4 linked regions of the Homo sapiens genome follow. The protein of the gene in region 3 purifies or fractionates together with the protein of the main gene of each other region. This does not show direct contact. Each region holds a gene or a part of one and is shown on either strand. Other genes may lie near its edges.

Region 1 (5,005 bases), on a different chromosome or scaffold from region 3:
TTCTAGTGGAAATTCGACAAGACATAAAATGCTGAAATAGAAGTTCTTGAGGGATGAAAGGAGATGTGAATGTTTCACATCTAAATGTATTTCTTTGCTTATAGAAAATGTGGACTACTCAGTTCTCCAGGGATTTAACAAATCTCCACCTTGAGCCTACTGCTCACAGCAGGTAGAGAATTTTGTCCCTGGATCCGGAGTCTGCCACCTTTACTCTGGGCATCTCTAAGAAAAGTTTCTTCACTTCTGGACCTCAGTTTCCTTAAATAGCAAATGAAGATGGTGAGAGCTCCCCTGCAGTCCTCGCAGGACTGGGTACGAGAGATAAAGGAGGCAGTGGGTATTGTCACATTATGTGAAAGTAAGGAATTATCTACTACATTCTTTTCATGCCAGAGTGCTTTTGCACAAGCAGACCAGGATCTATTCAGCAAAGCGCTTGTATTAATATGCCAGTTATTCAGCTGGACTGACCGTATTGGGAATCCCTAAAATAGACAAATGAGTTTTCAACAAAGGTTTGAGGGCTATGCAATTTTGACTACGTCTTATCATTCTTCTTTGGCTGTTCTCACCACATCTCTTTTCTTAAATATTTCTTCCACCATGAACCGCTTCCTAACTCCCCCAGACAGAAATGCCGCCTGTTTCTTCTTTTCTGAGCAATACACTGTTCTAGAAACTGGAGCAAACAGACACTGCCCCTGCTCTCCTGGAGCACATATTCTGGTGGGAGAGTGTGAGAAAGTAAGCAAATAAGCCAATCCAGTAACAAGGTGACTCCAGATAAACATACTTGCTACCTAATTATGTTACTGAAGAAATTATTACCATGAAAGAAAGAAGGTGATGAAAGGGAAATATTCTTGGGATGGTCCATCTCATGAGACAGGCAGAGACTCGGTTATTTATCTGACTCCCATACTAAACTGTAAATTCATCAATGACAAGAACTATTTCTTAATATCCTGCACAACTGCCTTGTGAACGACAATCAATAGCAAAGGTAGGGGCAGATTTGGGAGAAGGTGTACCAGAGTCTCCAAGGGCACAAGCACACTTTACACTTGGAACACATTTTTTAAAAATAAATACTTTTAATAATGCAAAATGAAATTTTATAATAAAAATGTCATTGCCAGATAAAGAAATTAAAGCCTCAAAAAAATTTCCGTGGACGATGGGAGCAGGCTTAAAGTAAGTTAATAAGCACAGATGTAAACTGTTCCTGGAACAAAACAAATGATCAAGTTAAAAGGTGCTCAGGAGGCTGAGATAGGAGAATCCCTTGAACCCAGGAGGCAGAGGTTGCAGTGAGCTGGGATCACGCCACTGCACTCCAGCCAGGGCAACAAGAGCGAGACACCGTCAAAAAAAAAAAAAAAAAAAAAAAAAAAAGTGCTGAACGTCAGAGTTCTGAGTATGAAAACTCAACAATTAAGGCATCCTTACCACAGTCCTCAATCACTGTAGTTGCCTAATCATTTGAGATCATGTTTAATGTATTTCATGCTGGTCTATAATTTCCTTGCAGAGTAGTCCTTGACTGGTTTTGTTCATCAATGTACTCTAACACGTAATGCAATGCCGGGTACATGGCAGACAATAAACGTGCTCAATAGTCAGTTTTATTAAAATTGAGAGTATAGCTCAATATCCAAAACTACCCAATGGATGATAGACCCAGGATACAATCAAACTCCCACATAGAAAATATTTTATGTTGGATAATGAAATTTAACTTTGGGTTATGTTGAGCCAGAGACTGAACTGCAGGCTCCCTGGCTAACAGCCTAAGGTTTCTCCCCAGTATCCTGATATTTCCTATCACTTTCCTCTAGTTTTTATTTTTTAATCCTTAGCACATCACTATCTAACTAGGAGAGATTCTGCTTATCTGTCTTGTGTTTTGTCTGTCTCCTCTGCTGGAAGATAAGCACAAGGGCGAGGACTTCCATCTGTTTTGTTCCCTACTGTGTCACCGGTGAGCAGAACAATATGCGGTACATGGCTGGAACTCAATAAACGTGTTAAAGGAGTAAACATGATTGCTGTAACCACTTGCAGAGATAGGAAGAAGGAACATCCCGAACAGAGGTTCACTCTGTAAACAGTAACTAACTAGAGCACTGTCTGTGCTCCATGTCCCTACACTCTTGCCTCGATATTCTGAACAACATGCCCTCCTGAATTTCATATTCCAAATTTCCCTCATATCCCTGGAAACCAGAGGCCATACATTGGAGGCCTGTGTGACAGATATAAGGCTTACACACAGAAATGTTTGGTTTGGCCCACATGGTGTTATTTAGGAATATCGAATTAGCTGCTGGCACTTGAAAGTGAGTAGATTTTACATAAAACTGTGAATTGACAGTCTATCTTGAAAAAAAAAAAAAAAAAAAAACATAACCAGGTCTGGCAAGACCAGACCTGAAGTCCCGCCTGCAGCCCCTGTGCTGGATCTGGGCTACAACCCCCACTTACCCAGGCACAGGGCCCAAGTCCTGTTCCACTCAAGCTGTTACTTGCCTGGCTGCTGAAGACATTAGAGTTTGCGACCCCTGCTGGAAAACTACCAAAAAGCATAATGTATTAGAGAAAAAGAAAGATGCCCACTGGGATCTATTTCTGTTATGTTTAGAGTATTGCTTGGAAGAATAATGTATTCATTTTTCTAGACCTCTTGTAGTAGCACATAACTATTGACAAACTACGGCCCAGTAGATATTATTCTAACGATCTGAAAAAGCTACAGACTTCATTCCCCATGGGTAGAGGAAGCTAAGGATGTTTCATGCTGGAGACAGGCCTGAAGATGAATGGGGAGAAGCTGTACATCAGTGGGTTGCAATTCTGGCTAAGTCAGGGAGAAAGGGAATTCACTTGAAGACTATGGGTTGCCTCTAGGAATTGCTGAGAAGCTGAAAAGCCAGGATTGGAAAATGAGAAGGAATGAAAGGAACCTGGGCACCAGAGGCACATCAAGATGGTGTTGCAGAAAAGGCACCTCTGGGACCACAGCTTGGGACATGCATACTGCTGCCAACGCCACTTGATCCATGATCCAAGGTGGTAAATAAACACTCCAATGTCCCTGTGCCCTTTAGCTAGTCTTTCAAGATTCCAGGCCCCAGGTGGGATCATTCAACTAAGCCCTAGTTCAGGGCTGGGAGATATGGACAAGGAGAAAGAGGCCCATCTCCCACAAAAAAAAAAAAAAATCCTTCTATGAAGGGAAGGTTGTGTTCCCTAAATAGGATGTTTGGTTCCAACTGCTTAGAAGGGTTTTAAGTGAGTCTGAAGAGAGAGGGCACTACAAGCACGACTGTAGAGTGGAATAAGAACAGACAGGCCTGAATTCTAGTCTGGAATCCTTTGTACCTTTAGAAAATTAATTAAGTTTTCCGATCGGCAGATTCCAAATCCTTAAAATAGAAATGACGCCATCTGCTCTCCAAGGTTGCTGTGAAGATTCAGTCCAATCACTCATTCAATTATTCCAAATATACTTATTGAATGTCTAAGTGCCAGGCAGGCACTGAGTTAGGTTCTGGAGACACGTTTGGAACAACACCTAAAATGCAATGATGAGGAGCCAGTGCATTATGCTGATGAAAGATTCAGACAAGGGGGACCCGGGTCATCTCGTGACACTGGTCATGTTTTACTTTTCCCCAGTGGAGTCACTCCCCATTTGTGACTTTTCTCCTTTTTTAAAAAAATTATTAATTAACATCAGGGCCCTCTCTTCAAACAGATTTTCTTAAGACATGTAATGTGTATTATGTTAAAAGGAAAAACACTCTAAAAATTGACTGTGATCCTGAAAACAAGAAAGGAATCATTCTGAGAAGTAGTGAGGCCCGGTGCTTGTAGCATTCAGGTGGAGTGATCACAAGAAGAGACTGGCCAATTAAAAGAAATCTCTCCCACTTAATGTTTAGCATATGTCATTTACTCAGACATATGCAAACTATGATTAAAATGAACATTAAAATAGATCTACGATAAAACTTAATTTTTTGTATTTTTTACCCTTTACAATTGCACAAGTGTTCTCCAATCGGCAAGATGCATTTCATATACATTTTCTCACTTTCTTATAATAATCTTTTCATCACTGTTTTGCAGAGGAAGAAATTTAGGGTCAGGGAGGGAGAAATTGTTGCCCAAGGTCATGGGGCAAGAAGTTGGCTTTAAATCCAGCTAGCACTCTCCTGCCTTCTGCCATAAGAAAAGAGCAGCCTCAATTGAAAGCACCAGGTCAAGTAGCCAGGTTGAGGGGAAAAAAACTGGGAATAGCCCTGATATTTTCCAGCACTAGCTGGAAAGTTACTGCATTTCCCTGGAAGCTGCTAAAAAGTTACCACTCTCCTGCAACAACTGTCTCTAACACAGGGACCCAGGCTTAGATGCAGGCCCGGAAACCTGGTGCCTGAGCACTGACCCAGCCTACAGGCTCAATTTCATCAGGACACCAGATACATCTTACTGTGCCTTCCTCCAAACTTTAGCCCCCATAGACAGACATGATTTAGCAACCACGGTGGGGATATGCCATTGTGGGTAGCTGCTATGTTCTCAGAAAGGCAGTGTGCATGAGTGAAGCAATTTACACCACCCAGGCCATCTTTCTAGCCCCTTCCTAGTCACCATCGAGTTTCAATTCAAGGCAAGAGAAGCTTCCATGTGGCTTTTCCCTTCAGAGGCCCCCCCCCCAACCCTCACAAGATTTTTCCAGTAAAATAATTTCTTATTTTAATAAGAAAAGTACATGCTCCAACTTTTAGGGGGACCCAGGGGGGGGGCTTGAGGCTTCATTCTAGACATAACCACAGGAAAGTAAAGAACCCTTTGCTTTTTCCGATGCCATCTCAAGATGCCAATTTCTCACCAGCTTCTCAGAACAAAAATCTCCTATCTTAAAACTACAGAGCATTGTATACCCTGTGGCATCACAGAGGATCCACAGTCTAGAAGCACAGCTTAATAAGCCTCACTA
Region 2 (5,463 bases), on a different chromosome or scaffold from region 3:
TCCTGCATGAAACAACCTCAAACCAGACAAAATATATGAAACTATGGTTTTCAGTACACTGGACATGAGGCACGGAATGTAATCCCTGAAAGACAGGAAACATAAGATGTGTGCTGTGAGTATCCCAGCTTACAACTTGAGAGAATTTGAGACAGCAGTGACAATGGAGATAGATAGCTTAAGGAAGCCTAGCAAGTCTCTGAATGGAGTAGCTGTTGCTGAGAGTTCAGGTACACGAAGGTGGCTAGAGATTGCAGGATAGAGTACCGGCGAGGAAAGAGCTGCATTGGAGAAAACTTTGCAAATCTGGAGAGGGTCGCCCTTCAGTGTGTAACAAAGTGCATGAAACTACCTGAGGCAAGGGAAAGAAACACTCAAAAGAATTACAGCGGCATTTATCAACCTTTAAAAAATTATTATTGACCTCAAGGAATCTTTTTAAACATCTTTTCTAGTCACCTCTCTATGAATTTTTTAATTTTTATTTAATTTAATTTAATTTTATTTTATTTTTGAGACGGAGTCTTGCTCTGTCGCTCAGGCTGGAGTGCAGTGGCGCGATCCTGGCTCACTGCAAGCTCCGCCTCCAGGGTTCATGCCATTCTCCTGCCTCAGCCTCCCGAGTAGCTGGGACTACAGGCACAAGCCAACATGCCCAGCTAATTTTTTTTTTTTTTTTTTTTTTTGTATTTTTAGTGGAGGCAAGGTTTCACCGTGTTAGCCAGGATGGTCTCGATCTCTGGATCTCATGATCTGCCCACCTCAGCCTCCTAAAGCGCTGGTATCACAGGCGTAAGCCACTGCGCCCGCCCTGAAATTTTAATATCGCACATGCACTGCATATCTCTTTAGTACTATACGTATATCTGGGCTTTACACAAAAAGAATATTTTTCTTCTCTTCACTTCTCCCATCCCCCCCAAAAAAACTAATTTCTGTCGTTTTGGGGACAATATTACTCTCACTGAGAGTGCATGTTCACATACAACCATGAATAGAGGTGGTTGCCATGGGCTATACCAGAAATCCCCATAATTAATAGGGCATTAGGTAGAATATTCATAGGGGTCTTGCCTCAGTCCTGGCAAGTCCTAGACCATGTATTACTATGGCGGCCCCACTGAACAAATCTTCAAAGATTTGGAAAAAAAGATCAAACCGTTTCCAATAACTAATTGGCATCTCTGAGCAAAGTTCACATGTATTTCCAGTAACATAAAACTATCCAACACCAGGCCGGGCACAGTGGCTCATGCCTGTAATCCCAGCACTTTGGGAGGTCGAGGCAGGCAGATCACGAGGTCGGGAGATGGAGACCATCCTGCTAACAAGGTGGAAACCCCGTCTCTACTAAACATACAAAAATTAGCCGGGCGTGGTGTTGGGCGCCTGAAGTCCCAGCTACTCGGGAGGCTGGGGCAGGAGAATGGCATGAACCCGGGAGGCAGAGTTTGCAGTGGGCCGAGATTGCGCCATTGCACTCCAGCCTGGGCAACAGAGCCAGACTCCATCAAAAAAAAATCCAACACCCAACGAGGTAAAATCACAATGTCTGGTATACAATAAAAAATTACCAAGTGTGTGAAGAGGCAGAAAAATAGGACCTATAATGAGGATAAAAATCAATCTAAAATGACCCAGCACATACCCAGATGTTAGAATTACTAATGAAAAATATTATGACTATATTCCGTATTTTCAAAGATTAGGATGTGACAAGAAAAGGCTTTAATTAAACTTCGAGAGATGACAATGTTAATGTATAAGATTAAAAAATACAATGGATGTAATTAATGGCAGATGAGAGTTTTCAGAAGAAAATATTAATAAACTTGAATATATATAGCAGTAGAAAGCATCCAAAATGAAACAGAGACAGAAAAAAAACAAAGAATAATCAGAGTATCGGTGATCTGTGGGACAACTTCAGTTGCCTAATCTGTGTGTATTTGGAGTTCTCAAAGGAGAAAAGAGAGTGGATGGATAGAAAAAAATATTTTTAAAAATTAATACATAAGCATTTTCCACATTTGATGCAAACTATAAACCCACAGACCCAGCTCAACATCCCCAAGTAGGGGTGCTATTAAGAAAACCACATCACAACACATCATAAGCAAATGGATCAAAACTCAGTGTGGTAAAGAGAAAAAGACAAGTCTTACACAGAGAAGAAAAACAAGGATGATACCAGACTTCTTTTTGGAAGCAATGCAAGGGGAAGGGCAGTGGAGCAACATCTTTCATGCTTCCAGTGAAACATCTTCCAACCAAAAGCAGAAAACTCTCTCTCCTAGGTTTCTATACCCAGCAAAACCGTCTTTCAAGAAAGGATGAAACAAAGATATTTTTCAGACATAGAAAAGTTAAAAGTAATATATTATCAGCAAACCTGGACTATGAGAACAGTGTAAAAGCCTTTCAGGAAGAAGGAAAATAAAGAATAATATCTTTGTGCAGATAGAAACATGGATCCACACAAAGAAATGAAGAGCACTGGCAATAGTAACACCATAAGTAAATATACAATACCTGCCCTTATTACTTAAATATCTTTTAAAGATAATTGGCTGTTTAGAAATAATAGCAGTGTCATGTGAGTTCTGCAGCATGAGTAAAAGTAAAATATATGACAACAATAACCTAGAGTAAATGGAAATATAGTTTAGTTTGTAAGGTTCTTAGACTGTGTGTAAAGTCGTATAATGCCTATTAAAAGTTGGCTATTACAAGTTATCTTTAAGTTAAAACATCTGTATGGTGTAATCCCTAAAGCAAATGCTAGAGTAACAAAAACAGTGATAATATTACAATATTACACAATAATATTACAATGCAGCGATGAAATAGAATAAATTTTTAAATGCTTGAAAGTAGACAAAAAAGATGAGAAAGAGGACAAAGAACAAATGGGACAAATAGAAAGCAAATAGCAAGATATAAAATAAAAATCTGATAAATTTGACCTTAAGATTAACAACTCTCCTTTTAAAATACATTGTTAAGAGAATAAGAGTCAAGCTACAGACTGGGAGAAAATATTTGCAACACTTTATTTGAATGCTGTAAATTTTTTTCAGAATATAGTTCATAAAGAACTCTTAACAACTCAATAATTAGCAAAAATAAAATGAAAATAATGAATATAAGAAAAAATGACGAAAAGTGCTAGGCCAGTGGACAAAAAGCACACAAAAATGTTCAATATCGTTTTGTCATTAAGGAAATGCAAATTAAAACCACAGTGAGTTATTCTTCCCACTAAAATGGTTATGATTAAAAATATTGTCAGTACCACGTGTTGTTGAGAATATGGAGCAATTATAATTCTCATACATTATTGTTGGAATGTAAAATGCTACAACCACTTAGGAAAAATTGTTTAACATTGTTTTATATAATTAAGCATACATGAAACCTATGACCCAACAATTCCAATCCTAGATTGAAAAGAAATGAAAACTTATGCCCATTATAAGACTTACACAAGAACGTTTATAGCATCTTTACTTATAATATCCCCAAACTGTAAACTGCCTAAAAGACCTTCAACAAGAAAATGGACAAACAATTTGTGTTGTATTAATAATGAAATACTCTTCAGCTATAAAATGGACAAAACTACTGGTAACTGCAACAAACATGGCTGAATCTAAAAAACCTTGTGTTGAATGAATAAATCTAGACACTATAGGGTACATTCTGAAGTCCTAGAACAAGCGAAACTAAGATATAGCAGTAGAAATTGTATCAGTAGTTACCTGGGTTGAGGTGGGATGGGAGTTGACTGCAGAGAAACACAAGGGAAGTTTCTGGAGTGATGGAAATGTTCTATGTCTTGATTGACTATGGTTACATTGGTGTGGACATTTGTCAAAACTCTGAATTTCATATTTGGAATTTGTATATTTTGTATATAAATTATACTTCAATAAATATGTACATGTATATATATGTGTATATATAATACATTTTGATATGTCATGATGTCTATCACTTCACAGCATATTATATTTCTATCATACCATATTTACATAATGGAAAAAGATGAAAAGGATGCTGTATTTTGGGGAAATCACAAGAGATTATCACCTTTATTTATTTTTTATACAAATACATATAAATCTTTCACAGTACAATACAAATGTCAAAATGTGGTATTTTCATTGCTCTATAAATTCTTATATGTTCTATGTATGTAATAAATGTTAAAAACAGTGTTTATATGTTGTATATGTTTATTTGTTCTATGTGTTTACATGTTCACTGTTCTATAAATTCTCATATATTGTATACTATACAATCAGGTGATGAGCTGCTCAGTAAATAAGTGCTGAACACTCTGCATCCCTCATCACGTCAAGCATTTCACATCCCTTTTCCTGTAGGCTTCCACAGTAGACATTTGACTTGCCAATTACATTTTCATCCATCATTCTGGAGAAGCCTGGAGAAACAGCTAGACACAGGGGACATACTCCTATACCTTGCTCATTGTGCCTTGGAATTATACATATTGAAATATTGTAAAGATTTGCTTCATTTGTATCAACATGGCTGTGAAATTAGATGTCAACTCTACCTCAGTTCCAACTTTTAGGAGGAATCCAGATAGTTTATTAGAAAATAGAAGTGCAAAAATGTTTGCTGTTTGATTCTCAGACCATAGCCTGAGATTAGCAATATTAAAAAAAAAAATAGCAGACAGAAGAGGCCCAAGTCTCTCCCAGCTCCTGGGATGCATGGAAGCAATGGGCTGTGATGTCCTACTGAGGTAAAAGAAGTAGTGTTTGTTATAGTCCCACGAGCAGAAGCAGTAAGAACTTGAGGTAGGGTGCACCTAAAACTGAGAACAAGGGAAAGCTGAAGTAGGAAGTGTCACCAGGGAGGGACTATGGGTCCTTACTATGCGAAGAGAGAAAAGGATTTAATTAGGTCCAACAGAATATAATGCCATTTCAAAAACATTTTCTGTTAGGACAGTTTCCAGAGACTCTAAGTGGTTGTTTTTTGTGTGATGATTTTTGAGCTTGGTAGAATTTTTCTAGTCTGACTGGATCAGTTCTAGAAAGCTGCTCAGATGAATATGCAATGAATGCTTTCTCTCTTCACATACTTCTCAGTTAGAAGGAGAATATTTCAGGCCAAAAGGATGCAAGACCGTAGTTATATATGCCACAATCAGATCAGTGATTTTAATTTGCCCACCCTAAAGAAATATGAGTATATACCACTCTAAAGAAATCTGTCTTTCTAACATGTCTATCACTTTCTTCAATGATTCCATAGCAAACAGTTAATGAAAAACAACAATAATAGCACATGTATTAATCTTCACCACTTGTAATTTTCCAAGGAATTTAGACAGATCTATTGCAAAAAAATTCATCAATTCTTATGTTCTTTCCAAATAGTTTTTGCACTAAATGATATTATTCAACATTTCTCCATGTCTACCTGTAC
Region 3 (5,783 bases):
AGTAGCTGGGACTATAGGCACATGCCACCATGCCTGGCTAATTTTTGTTTTTCTTTTGTAGAGACAGGGTTTTGCCATGTTGCCCAGGCTGGTCTCAAACTCCTGAGCTCAAGCGATCCAACCATCTCAGCCTCTGGGCTTTCACACTGTCTTAAGATGGAAAGTTAAACACACTTTTTAGAGTTGGAGAGAATTGAAAAACAACTATAAATAGAACAAGTCATGTGGTGGGGGGACAAAAGTGTAACCAATTAATTTGTTGTAACTCTTGAACCAGTCTGGTATAGAAAATGTAATCCTTTCTCACTTCTTTCTCTTTTTCCTACATAAAAAAGAACTTAACTTTTAACTTTGGAGTACTGACCCCATTTCTCTGGAATCTGTGTGCCACAGAATGTCCATTCCCAGCCTTTCACTTTAGTAAACTCTTTTTTTTTTTTTTTTTTTGAGATGGAGACGGAGTCTTGCTCTGTCATCCAGGCTGGAGTGCAGTGGCGTGATCTCGGCTCACTGCAACTTCTGCCTCCCAGGTTCAGGAGATTCTCCTGCCTCAGCCTCCCATAGCTAGAACTACAGGTATGTGCCACCAAGCCTGGCAAATTTTTGTACTTTTAGTAGAGACAGGGCCTTACCATGTTGGCCAGGCTGGTCTCAAACTCCTGACCTCAGGTGACCCACCTGTTTCAGCCTCCCAAAGTGCTGAAATTATGGGCATGAGTCACAGTGCCCAGCCCACTCCTTAAAACTGGATTTTGACCCTTTTGATTATTTCAAATTGCTACCACGATGAGTGCTTACATCACTACTTGTCTCCAGTTTAGCACACAATCATTTATATCCACATGATATACATAAACATATCACATACATTAGACACAGACACATAAAGTGCACATTAAACCCCTTGCACAGCCATAGGCAAAAATAGCCTAGATCACCGATACCCATACCAATCACACGATACATACTCTGCACACATAACATATATAAGCGTCACATACGTTAGAATAATATATTTTATTTAAGAAAAGGAGGGTCGTTCAGCTTGGGTAGGTATAAAGAGAGTCAATATCAGGAAAGTCTTAGGTTAGTCGAGGACAGATGCCATATGAGCTGAATCTTGGAAAAAATGTGGGTGTAAATTAGGCAAATTAGGACAAAATTGTATTACAGATACAGAAACCACACAAAGATTTGGTATCAAGAAATCACGAGGTACATAAACTCTAAGTAGTTGGAAAACACTGACACATAAATGTAAGCGGGGAGTGGCAGGGGCTATTGATGGAGGCAGGGCCCACCACTTTGGAAGCACTGAATACTCTACCAATATCTGAGGATGTGCATAGACTTTCTAGTTGCTGATAGGTTCTATAATCCTCAGGTCTTCTATGTTATCAACATATCCATCTACGCCACAATGGAATTCAATGTAGCTGAAGCTTCTGCTCTCTGTGTACCTATTGTTGTACTTCTCCCAGTGACACTCGAGTACTTTGAGGGCACCTGGGGCCCATACATATGCATTTCTATATCGGTCGCTCCCCTTCTCATTGATGCATGCACGCTGAATTTTGAACCATAAGCTATAGATGAACATATGAAAGCTCTTGCCTTTCAGAGCCTCTTTTTCTCTCATGAGGACATCACATTTGTACTCTTTGAATTCTCGACTTGGACTTAAGTAATGAAGTTTTATGAATTCTCTCCAGTAAATGTTGTTACTGTATACACACAGCCTGCAAAGGATGCAAAGCAGGGCCAAGAGTATGCCCCAAATCTTTAGAGAGGATGTCATCTCAGTCACCACGTCCACCTGCGTGTCTACAGGGAAGAGAAAGAAAAGCATTAACCAGACTATACTCAGAGAGCTGAGCTCCACCTTAAAATTCCTTTCCCTGCCAAGCAGGTACTTGGGCACTATATTGCTATTTGGTTCCATATTAGAAGATGATGATTCTCATTAAAGAATACAGTTTCTGGGCTGGGCACAGTGGCTTATACCCGTAATCCCAGCAGTTTGGGAGGCCAAGGTGGGTGTATCACCTGAGGTCAGGAGTTCGAGAAACACCGTGGCCAACATGGTGAAACCCCATCTCTACTAAAATACAAAAAGTAGCTGGACATGGTGGCTGTAGACCCAGCTACTCGAGAGGCTGAGGCAGGAGAATCGCTTGAACCTGGGAGGCGGAGGTTGCGGTGAGCCGACATCACACCTCTGCACTCCGGCCTGGGTGACAAAAGCAAAACTCCGTCTCAAAAAAAAAAAAAAAAAAGAATACAGTTTCTAAGAACTAAAAATATGCTTTAGCCTGTGAGAGCTAACACAAATTTGGAAAATATAGATAAAGTACCTTTTGAGAATTTCAAATATCTCCTGTCTACCCTGTCTTCTACCCAATTTGAGGAGCCAATCACTATCGAGCTCTCTTTTACCAAATAAGCTCTCAGGAGATCATGTGTCCAATAGAAAAATGACATTTTAAGCGTATTGTCTGCAAAGTGGAAAAGATTGTTGCATTTTAAGGGAATGTAGAAGATGAGTAACTACTTGGGAGGTGGTTCCTAGGCAGAAGGCATTGATTCTGGAAACCACAGCCCAGGCTGCAATTGCACTTCTCTGAAAAATGATGTTTTTCCAACCTTGACTTCCTTATAACACTTTCCCCAAAGTCTGGGTGAAACATGTGATCATTATTAACTATCGGCATCCCTTCTCAGAGGCCATTTCCCTAATTACTGCTATTACAAATGATCTTCATTTGTTAGAGCTTATTGACAATGCCATCATAAAAGGACATCAGTTTAGAACTGTTGCTGTAATCAATCAGGCACCAAAACTAAAACAGTCCCCCGCAGAGCTACTGTGGTCACAGCATAGGATGTATGGTCGTTTGAAAAAGTTATCTCTTTACCAGCTATCTGTCCTCATTTGCCATGAGGAGTATTCCTGGCCCTACTGAACCTCTAGCCTGATTCATAGCTCTGAGTATCGGTGTCCTCAGATAGGCCTAATCACAGCTCCCTACAGACCTGCAAGAGTCTAATGAGATGCAAGCATGTGAGAGCACTTCTAAAGATGTCAAATGCCCACATCAGGCACAGGGTTCCTCATCTGTGGAACCCTGTCCTGGTGATAAAGGCCTACACAAGATAGAAGAGTAGGATGCAAGCAGCTTTAATGCACTGTGCTTAGGAGGACTGGCGGTGAAGGAAGGGAGGGGCAGGGAAAAGCCTGTATCAGTGGGACTGAGGCTAACCAGAATTCAGACCTTTGTTTTCCATGATTTGGATCCTTCTCCATTGTTTGCTATCTAAAAGTTCAATCAGCCTCCTTCCAGTGTTCCTGGCTGTCCCCCGAGCAACCTCAGCAGAGCCCTTCTTACCCTACTTGGACTCTGAGTTCAGGTCACTGATTGTAGTGGGGATCAGCATGTGGATCTGAAGAGCAGAGTCTGCGTCCTCCTCCTTTTCTCAGAGCCCTGGAAATCTACAGCAGTGGAGAAAGGAATAGTAGGGGGAGCTGCAGGGCTCCAGCTGATTGGTAGCCGAGGTGGTGATGGGGAACAGCCTTATTATGTGAACTTGTCCCTGTATCGTTTCATCTGGAACACTTGGGCTCACTCAAACAGTAGCCTCGAGCAAAGGCTACAAACATCAAAGGCTGAGCCCTGGGTACAAAATGATTGCAAGACCCTAGGTGACCCCAGAAAAGGGTTATCTGGTGCTATCAGGAGACAACCAGAGACTTAGCTCTGCTCTCAATTCTAACAAACTTCTGGGGAAGTCCCTGGAGGGTTATGCTATGTTACATGGGAACTTCACTGAGGAAAGCCACCTTTTTTTTTTTTTTGAGATGGAGTCTCGCTCTGTTGCCCAGGCTGGAGTGCAGTGGCGAGATCTCGGCTCACTGCAAGCTCCGCCTCCCGGGTTCACCCCATTCTCTTGCCTCAACCTCCTGAGTAGCTGGGACTATAGGCGCCTGTCACCACGCCCAGCTAATTTTTTGTATTTTTAGTAGAGACGGGGTTTCACCGTGTTAGCCAGGATGGTCTCGATCTCCTGACCTCATGATCTGCCTGCCTCAGCCTCCCAAAGTGCTGGGATTACAGGTGTGACTCGCTGTGCCTGGTCTTTTGCCTTTTTTTTTTTTTTGACAGGGTCTTGCTCTGTCGCCCAGGCTGGAGTGCAGTCGCACAAACACTGCTCCCTGCAGTCTCAACCTGCCAGGCTCAAGCAATCCTCCCACCTCAGCCTCTTGAGTAGCTGGGACTATAGGCATGCAACACCATGCCTGGCTAGTTTTTTGTATTAATTTTTGTAGAGACAGGGTTTCACCATGTTGGCCAGGTTGGTCTTGAACTCCTGAGCCTAGCTAAGCCTCAACACATCAGCCTCTAAAAGTGCTGGGATTACAGGCATGAGCCACTTGGTCAGGCCAGAAAATCACTTTTAATGTTGTGAATTGTGAGACCTTCATTGAGAGGTGAAAGAATATCTAGTGAACACAGTGGCCAAATAGCTATGAATGATTAGGTAGCCAGTATCTGAAATTTCTCTACTCAGTTTTTTAATTATAACCTTTAGCTGTTTGGTGACACTGTACTGCTTACTATTAAAATGTCACATAGCCTGGCCATAGTTTCTACAATGCTACTATACGTAACATCTGACTGTGAAGTATAGGTCACAAGGTGCTGGCTAAGTTGTTTTTCAGGACCTCAAGATTCAGTCCTGAACTCAGCTCAAACTGACAAGACCACAACTTCTTCAACTGAGTTTGTGCAAGTGTTCAATGGTTACCTTTAACATCACAGCCGGAATTTTCCACCATATTTTCCATGCCAACTCCCCACAAATTGGCAAATGTGACCAATACTGGTTCATCAACACTAGTCAAAGTTACGATTTATGAATAAAGTAAGACTCTTGCAAATCTTTTCTAACAACACTTCCAAAGGCTGCTCCTAGCCAAACCACCTTAGTTGATTTTCTCACTGGGCCACCTTATTGTTGGAATGACAGAAGGTTCAGTTTATATCCAGAACTTATCTTCAAACCCCCACTCCTGTGAAGCAGTCCTTGAGTAATAGAAAATCATGTGCTGATAGACTGGATGGACGGGAGATAGTCTTAGAGCAGGTTCTGTGCATCCTTCTACTCTCTAGGTCTTTGGGGGACAGGGGAGAGCAAAACAGGAACAATTCTGGGCCTCTGAATTTGGATGATTTGAGAGGCGATTCTGAGGGAAAATCAGTTTTTTGTCATGTGCCCACACATCCAGAGCTCTTTCCAACAAATGTGCATTGTCTATTGAAGACAAATTCAAGTAGTGACTCAATGAATGTAGAGAGGTGGGAGAGAGAAGCCACCTGAGCCAATGTATGAGCCAGTGTTTCTCAAATACTTGATATTCCACTTTTAATATGGAAAAAAAATCATGGACTCCAAGCATACATCCATGAACTCTCCTATGAGCTAAGCCCAAAGTCCTAAAGCTTTTTGGATATAAACCCAATTAGGAGGCCATCTAAACTAAACTGGGGAAAAGCATATTGTTATATTTACAGAAATTAGCCACTATGAATGCAGCCCAGGAAGGTAACCCAACCAGTATTTCTGGAAACTACGTAATGGGTCTACTTCCTAGGGTTGTCTACCAGCTTGTGTAACAGAAGCTCCTTGGGCAGTGACTTTTGATTTCGGTTTTTAAGGAGGTATTCCCCTTTAAATATAAATTTTAAATCACTTGAAAATTATGTTCATCCTTTATTGTCTTTGAT
Region 4 (5,005 bases), on a different chromosome or scaffold from region 3:
ATTGCAATAGTCTTGAATAAAGCCTTCCTTACCTGTTTAACTTGTCCAGTGCAATTTTTTTCTGACATGCCTCTCAAACCACTGTATGTAGGTTACTTTCTCCACCTACACACTAAAGCATGGGGGAGAGGGAGCAGCATGTTCAAGACTCAGTCTTAGACCTTGTACTTCTCACTCTATACTCTGTACCTCAGAGCCCCATGGCTTCAACTTGCACTTCTGTGTGGATGATTTCTAAACCTAAATCTCTTGCCGCTCCTACAGCTCATTTATTTATTCCATAGTCATTACTGAACATTAATAAACATTCACTAACTTTCTCTTGCTTAGACATATTCCATTTCTAATTATGTTGTTTCTTTATAAATGTGATGATTATCACATAAAAATAAGAGAAAGATATATAGTTGCAAATGGAACTGAAACTAATTCCTTTCTCTTATAGCTAAGAAATTACTTGAAAGTATGCTATTCATATACTCTGCTTCCTCAAAGTCCGTGATCTTTTACACTGTAACCAGCTTTAGAACCTGGTCTTGCTTTCTGAGATGTTTAAGCCTCCATAACTTCTACTTTAAAATTCACCTTTGTCAGGCAATTACTAGGATCACTAGAAGTCAAAAATTGTGCTCTACCACTAACAAAACACAGTGTTATCTTTTTAAGAACTCTTTTCATAAGCTAAAAAAATAGAAGTTTGTATTATATTTTAACAATCAAAGTGAGAGTAATAATTCTCAACAAAACTAAAGTACAGGCCTGGCGCAGTGGCTCATGTCTGTAATCCCGGCACCTTGAGAGGCTGAGGCAGGTGGATCTCCTGAGCCCAGGAGTTAGAGACCAACCTGAGCAACATGGCAAAACCCTCTCTCTACCGAAAATACAAAAATTAGCCAGTCTTATAACCTAGTCTCAAAAAATAAATAAATACAAATTTTAAAAAAGAAAGTACAGATCACTACTGTTACTTCTCAAATATTTTAACAAATAAAGGAAAAAGAAATAGAAGAACCATACTCTGCAAATCACTATTTAAAGGAATAATTTTTTACATAAGAGGATGGAGAGGGCAGCAGTTGTTAGTGACAGCAATGGCTCATTCTTATATACATGAGATGATGCAATCAGGTTTCTTTTCAGAGCTGGGGTCCAAAGGGATTTCCTACTCAAGCTGGTCACATTAGGCTATAAAAGGCACTGGTGCACTTGGAGACCAGACTCCACACAGATCCTCACATGCAGGGTAATCAAGCTCATTGAAAAGTTGCCCTGGGCTAGTTTCCAGCTAATTAAATAGATTAATGAAAGCCCAGCTCTGCTTCTACGTATTATCCTAGATGGCCTCACTCCTTCCCACACCCTTTATATCACTGCAATATCAACACCACACGAATTCTATGTTACCACTGGAATTTCACTCCTGAGCAATATTAATTCAACCATTTGAAAAATTCTGAAACAGCTTCATGATCTGAGTTAAAGTCTTAAAGACCAGAACCATAGTTTACAAATAGACTATCAATCCCCAATAACTCCACAAGTGAAAATATATATGTAATGCTAAATATTGAAAAGTTTAACCATAGTTCTAGAAATAGAATAATATAAATTTCTAACCAGTTTGGCTTAATGATACTTTTCTAAAGAAATATTACATTTCTCAGACTTCACTAATATAAAGTTTTCTTTTAAACATCATTACCTTAAATCTTACCTTATTTTTAAAAACAAGCTGAACAGGAATTTTTAGAACATCACTTATAATTTCCCCATCATCTTCAATATAATACACAATTACACAGGCTTTTGGAGTCCAAGAATTTTCTGGTGTTAAAGAGAACATTGTTGAATTTTGTTTTCCTACAGCCACCAACTGTCCCCTGGATACTACCTGAAAAGAACAGTAGATGGGTTTAATTTATTGCCAAACCTAGTAGGATCTCATCTGAAGCTACATTAATCATAATTGTATGCATACACACAAATTCTTGAATTAAACCAGCTTCAAAGTCTTTTGGAATGCAGGAAAACCTCTCTGACAAACACAGAGAGCATACACTGAGAAAAAGAAAATGGTAAGATTAAAGTAATACTGATTGGAGCAACAGTAGCTTCATAGTCAAGAATCTATTTTTGATTGCAAGGAATACAGGGCACCATTGGGAAAGCTGAATTAGCAAAATTACATGGTCATGGATAGCACTTTTTATTTTCTTTTTCATTTTTCTTACATTGTATAATTTTCTATAATGAATATATATTGCTTATCAAATAGAAATTTAAATTTTAAACATAAAACAAGGTTTAGTTATCTATTTTAAATTGGAAATGCAAACATAGGTGAAGAAATAAAAAAGGTTTTTTATTTGATTGCAATGTTAAAACGACAGGCTAAAAAGGTATGAGGCTGAGTTATAAAAATTAATAAGTTTAGTGTAGATATAAGGTAGACACCATTTAAGATGATTCTCAACCTAAATGCCCATCAAAGGTGGACTGGATAAAGAAAACGTGGTGCACATATACTACGGAATACTATGCAGCTATAAAAAAGAATAAAATCATGTCCTTTGCAGGAAGATGGATGGAGCTGGAGGCCACTATCCTTAGCAAACTAATGCAGGAACAGAAAACCAAATACCACATATTCTCACTTATAAGTGCACACTAAATGATGAGAACACATGGACACATAGAGGGGAACAACCGACACTGGGTCCTATGGGAGGGTGGAGGGTAGGAGGAGGGAGAGGATCAGGAAAAATAACTAATGGGTACTAGGATTAATACCTGGGTGATGAAATAATCTGTACAACAAACCCCCATGACATGAGTTTAGCTATATAACAAACCTGCACATGTACCCCAGAACTTAAAAGTGAATAAAAAGATGATTCTATAATAGATCATAAATTTAGATTCTATAAGAGATTACCATATAGCTTAACTCCTTCAATCGTTTGTTGCCACTAACCACCAACTCAAAAGGCGATCCCACCTAGAAAAAAACCTTAATTAATATGTACATATCAAAAGCAAGATAGTCCAATTATATTGTAATTCTCAAGTGAATTGTAAGCATTACCTTTATATTTTCATCTCTTGTTTTTAGTTGGATGTATGTCTTACTAGGAGACTTAAACAGACTATGAACTGCCATGCTACTTTTACTACCAAGGAAATAGGCCTATAATAAAAGAAAAAGGAGCTGTAAATGTTCATCTTTAGTAACACCTTGAGAAAAGATGTTACCTGCTGAACAATTATTAAAGACCAAATTCATCTTCACTTTTTTTTAATGCAAGAAAAATACATTCACCAGACATTGGATTTTCATCATTTTATAGCTTATACTGTAAAGAAACTGATAGCTTTAAAACACAGGAAAGGAATATATATATATATATATACACACACACATATACATATACATATATATGTGTGTATATATATATATGTATATATATTTATCTTTCATTTCAATTCCTGCCAAAATAAAATTTCAAATGACTGACCTCAAACACTAGACTGGGGATTTGAGGAAATTCTCCATCATATCTTCACATTGCTATATTTTACTGTGCTCTTCAAAATGAACTTACAAGGAAAAATTTAGTCTAACCTTCAGCCACTGTCATTAAATTACTTTTACCACTCTCCTCCATTTTGTGAAACAGAAACATGTGTCCACTTCCTATGTACTTTCAGTTCTGACAGGTTGAGTGCCTACCACAAGATTACAACTGTAATGGTGTTGTTGCAGTGACACAATGATGGGAAACAGACGGCACCTTCAACTGTAGCTCACTGGAATCCTCCAGGATTGGGAATTCAATCTTAAAAGTTCCACTTTGGGGGACAGTATAATTTATTTTCTGAACAGCTTCCATTTTCTGATTTCCACTGTTAGATCCGCTCCAGTACTCAGTATAGTTTCTCTGTGTCACTGTTATGACTACATTATTTCTTCTTTCTTCAAGAGTCAGTTGGTTGCCATCAGCACGAGTTACCTTCACCTAATGGTCAAAACAAAACATCTTAAAAACACAAAGGATTTAAGTACGATTAAATACAGTTTCCGTCTGTAGTATTCTCATGAAATTGAACTCTCAAAAATTATTGGTAGCACTATAATATCCAGATTCAGTGGCCTCTCTCTAGGAGGCATCCAACATCACTGATTACTCCCTTGTTAATATTATGGATTCCCTTAACTTCCGCGGCTCCAAAATAACCCCCTTCACTTCCTACCTCTCTTTCTGCATCCTCTCAGTGTCCTTTTCAGTTCCTCTTTCCTCTCCCTAAATGTGGGAATTTTGGACATCTGTTCTTCTCCCTTCCTCCAAGGTCTCAGCAATCCTATTGCTTAGCTTGTCATCTCTGTGATTGTACCCTAAAGCCAAAATTCCCATCCTTGCCCTTCTCTGGAGTTCATGCCCAACACCTCCAGTTACCTGCAGGAAATTTCTACTTGGATATCCTGGACACCTTGAATTCACATATCTAAAATGAGCAACCATGTCATTTTCCTATTTTCGCTAACATCAGGATTTTGCAAGACTTTACATTTCTGAATTTTCCCTCCCTCTCCCCACCCCCCAAATCCAATGAACACCAAAGTCCTATGCTTCTCTCTTCCATCCTCTCCACTCCCACAGCTACCACCACAAGGCTGCCCATCCCCTCACTCCTGGGCTACAGCCATCCTCCTGCACACAGCCTGAGCAGTCTCCCTCAAACACTACCTGAGTGCACCCCGAAATTGCCAGCCAGACCTCTCCTTCTTGTCTCACTTCTTATCTTGCTCCCCACCTCCCACTCCCATGCCCAAGCATTTAAAACACAACTAATCTTTTAAAAAACAGTTTAGACCATCCTCTTCCATAAAGCATCCCATAGTAACCCCCATGCCTATCCCACAGCCAACTCTCCCCCTCTGAACGCCCATGGTTTCACTCTACTCATTCAGAAATTACCATTTGCAGCCTCAATTTTTTAAACTGAC

The links. The genes of interacting proteins can lie anywhere in the genome.
Region 1: the proteins of EDDM3A (region 3) and HS3ST1 purify together in Homo sapiens (affinity purification with mass spectrometry; one large-scale study listed by BioGRID and IntAct). This does not show direct contact.
Region 2: the proteins of EDDM3A (region 3) and CNTNAP3 purify together in Homo sapiens (affinity purification with mass spectrometry; one large-scale study listed by BioGRID and IntAct). This does not show direct contact.
Region 4: the proteins of EDDM3A (region 3) and CD109 purify together in Homo sapiens (affinity purification with mass spectrometry; one large-scale study listed by BioGRID and IntAct). This does not show direct contact.

What each region holds. Positions count from the first base shown.
Region 1 is NC_000004.12:11,421,652-11,426,656, forward strand, and holds part of HS3ST1 (heparan sulfate glucosamine 3-O-sulfotransferase 1 precursor), read right to left. Parts: intron 1-5,005. UniProt on the Homo sapiens protein: Sulfotransferase that utilizes 3'-phospho-5'-adenylyl sulfate (PAPS) to catalyze the transfer of a sulfo group to position 3 of glucosamine residues in heparan. Catalyzes the rate limiting step in the biosynthesis of heparan sulfate (HSact).
Region 2 is NC_000009.12:39,063,467-39,068,929, reverse strand, and holds the end of CNTNAP3 (contactin-associated protein-like 3 isoform 1 precursor), read left to right. Parts: 3' UTR 1-4,220; downstream 4,221-5,463.
Region 3 is NC_000014.9:20,743,596-20,749,378, reverse strand, and holds EDDM3A (epididymal secretory protein E3-alpha precursor), read right to left. Parts: upstream 3,493-5,783; 5' UTR 3,387-3,492; intron 1,825-3,386; 5' UTR 1,799-1,824; coding exon 1,355-1,798; 3' UTR 999-1,354; downstream 1-998. UniProt on the Homo sapiens protein: Possible function in sperm maturation.
Region 4 is NC_000006.12:73,764,941-73,769,945, reverse strand, and holds part of CD109 (CD109 antigen isoform 1 preproprotein), read right to left. Parts: intron 4,017-5,005; coding exon 3,792-4,016; intron 3,188-3,791; coding exon 3,086-3,187; intron 2,999-3,085; coding exon 2,936-2,998; intron 1,892-2,935; coding exon 1,715-1,891; intron 1-1,714. UniProt on the Homo sapiens protein: Modulates negatively TGFB1 signaling in keratinocytes.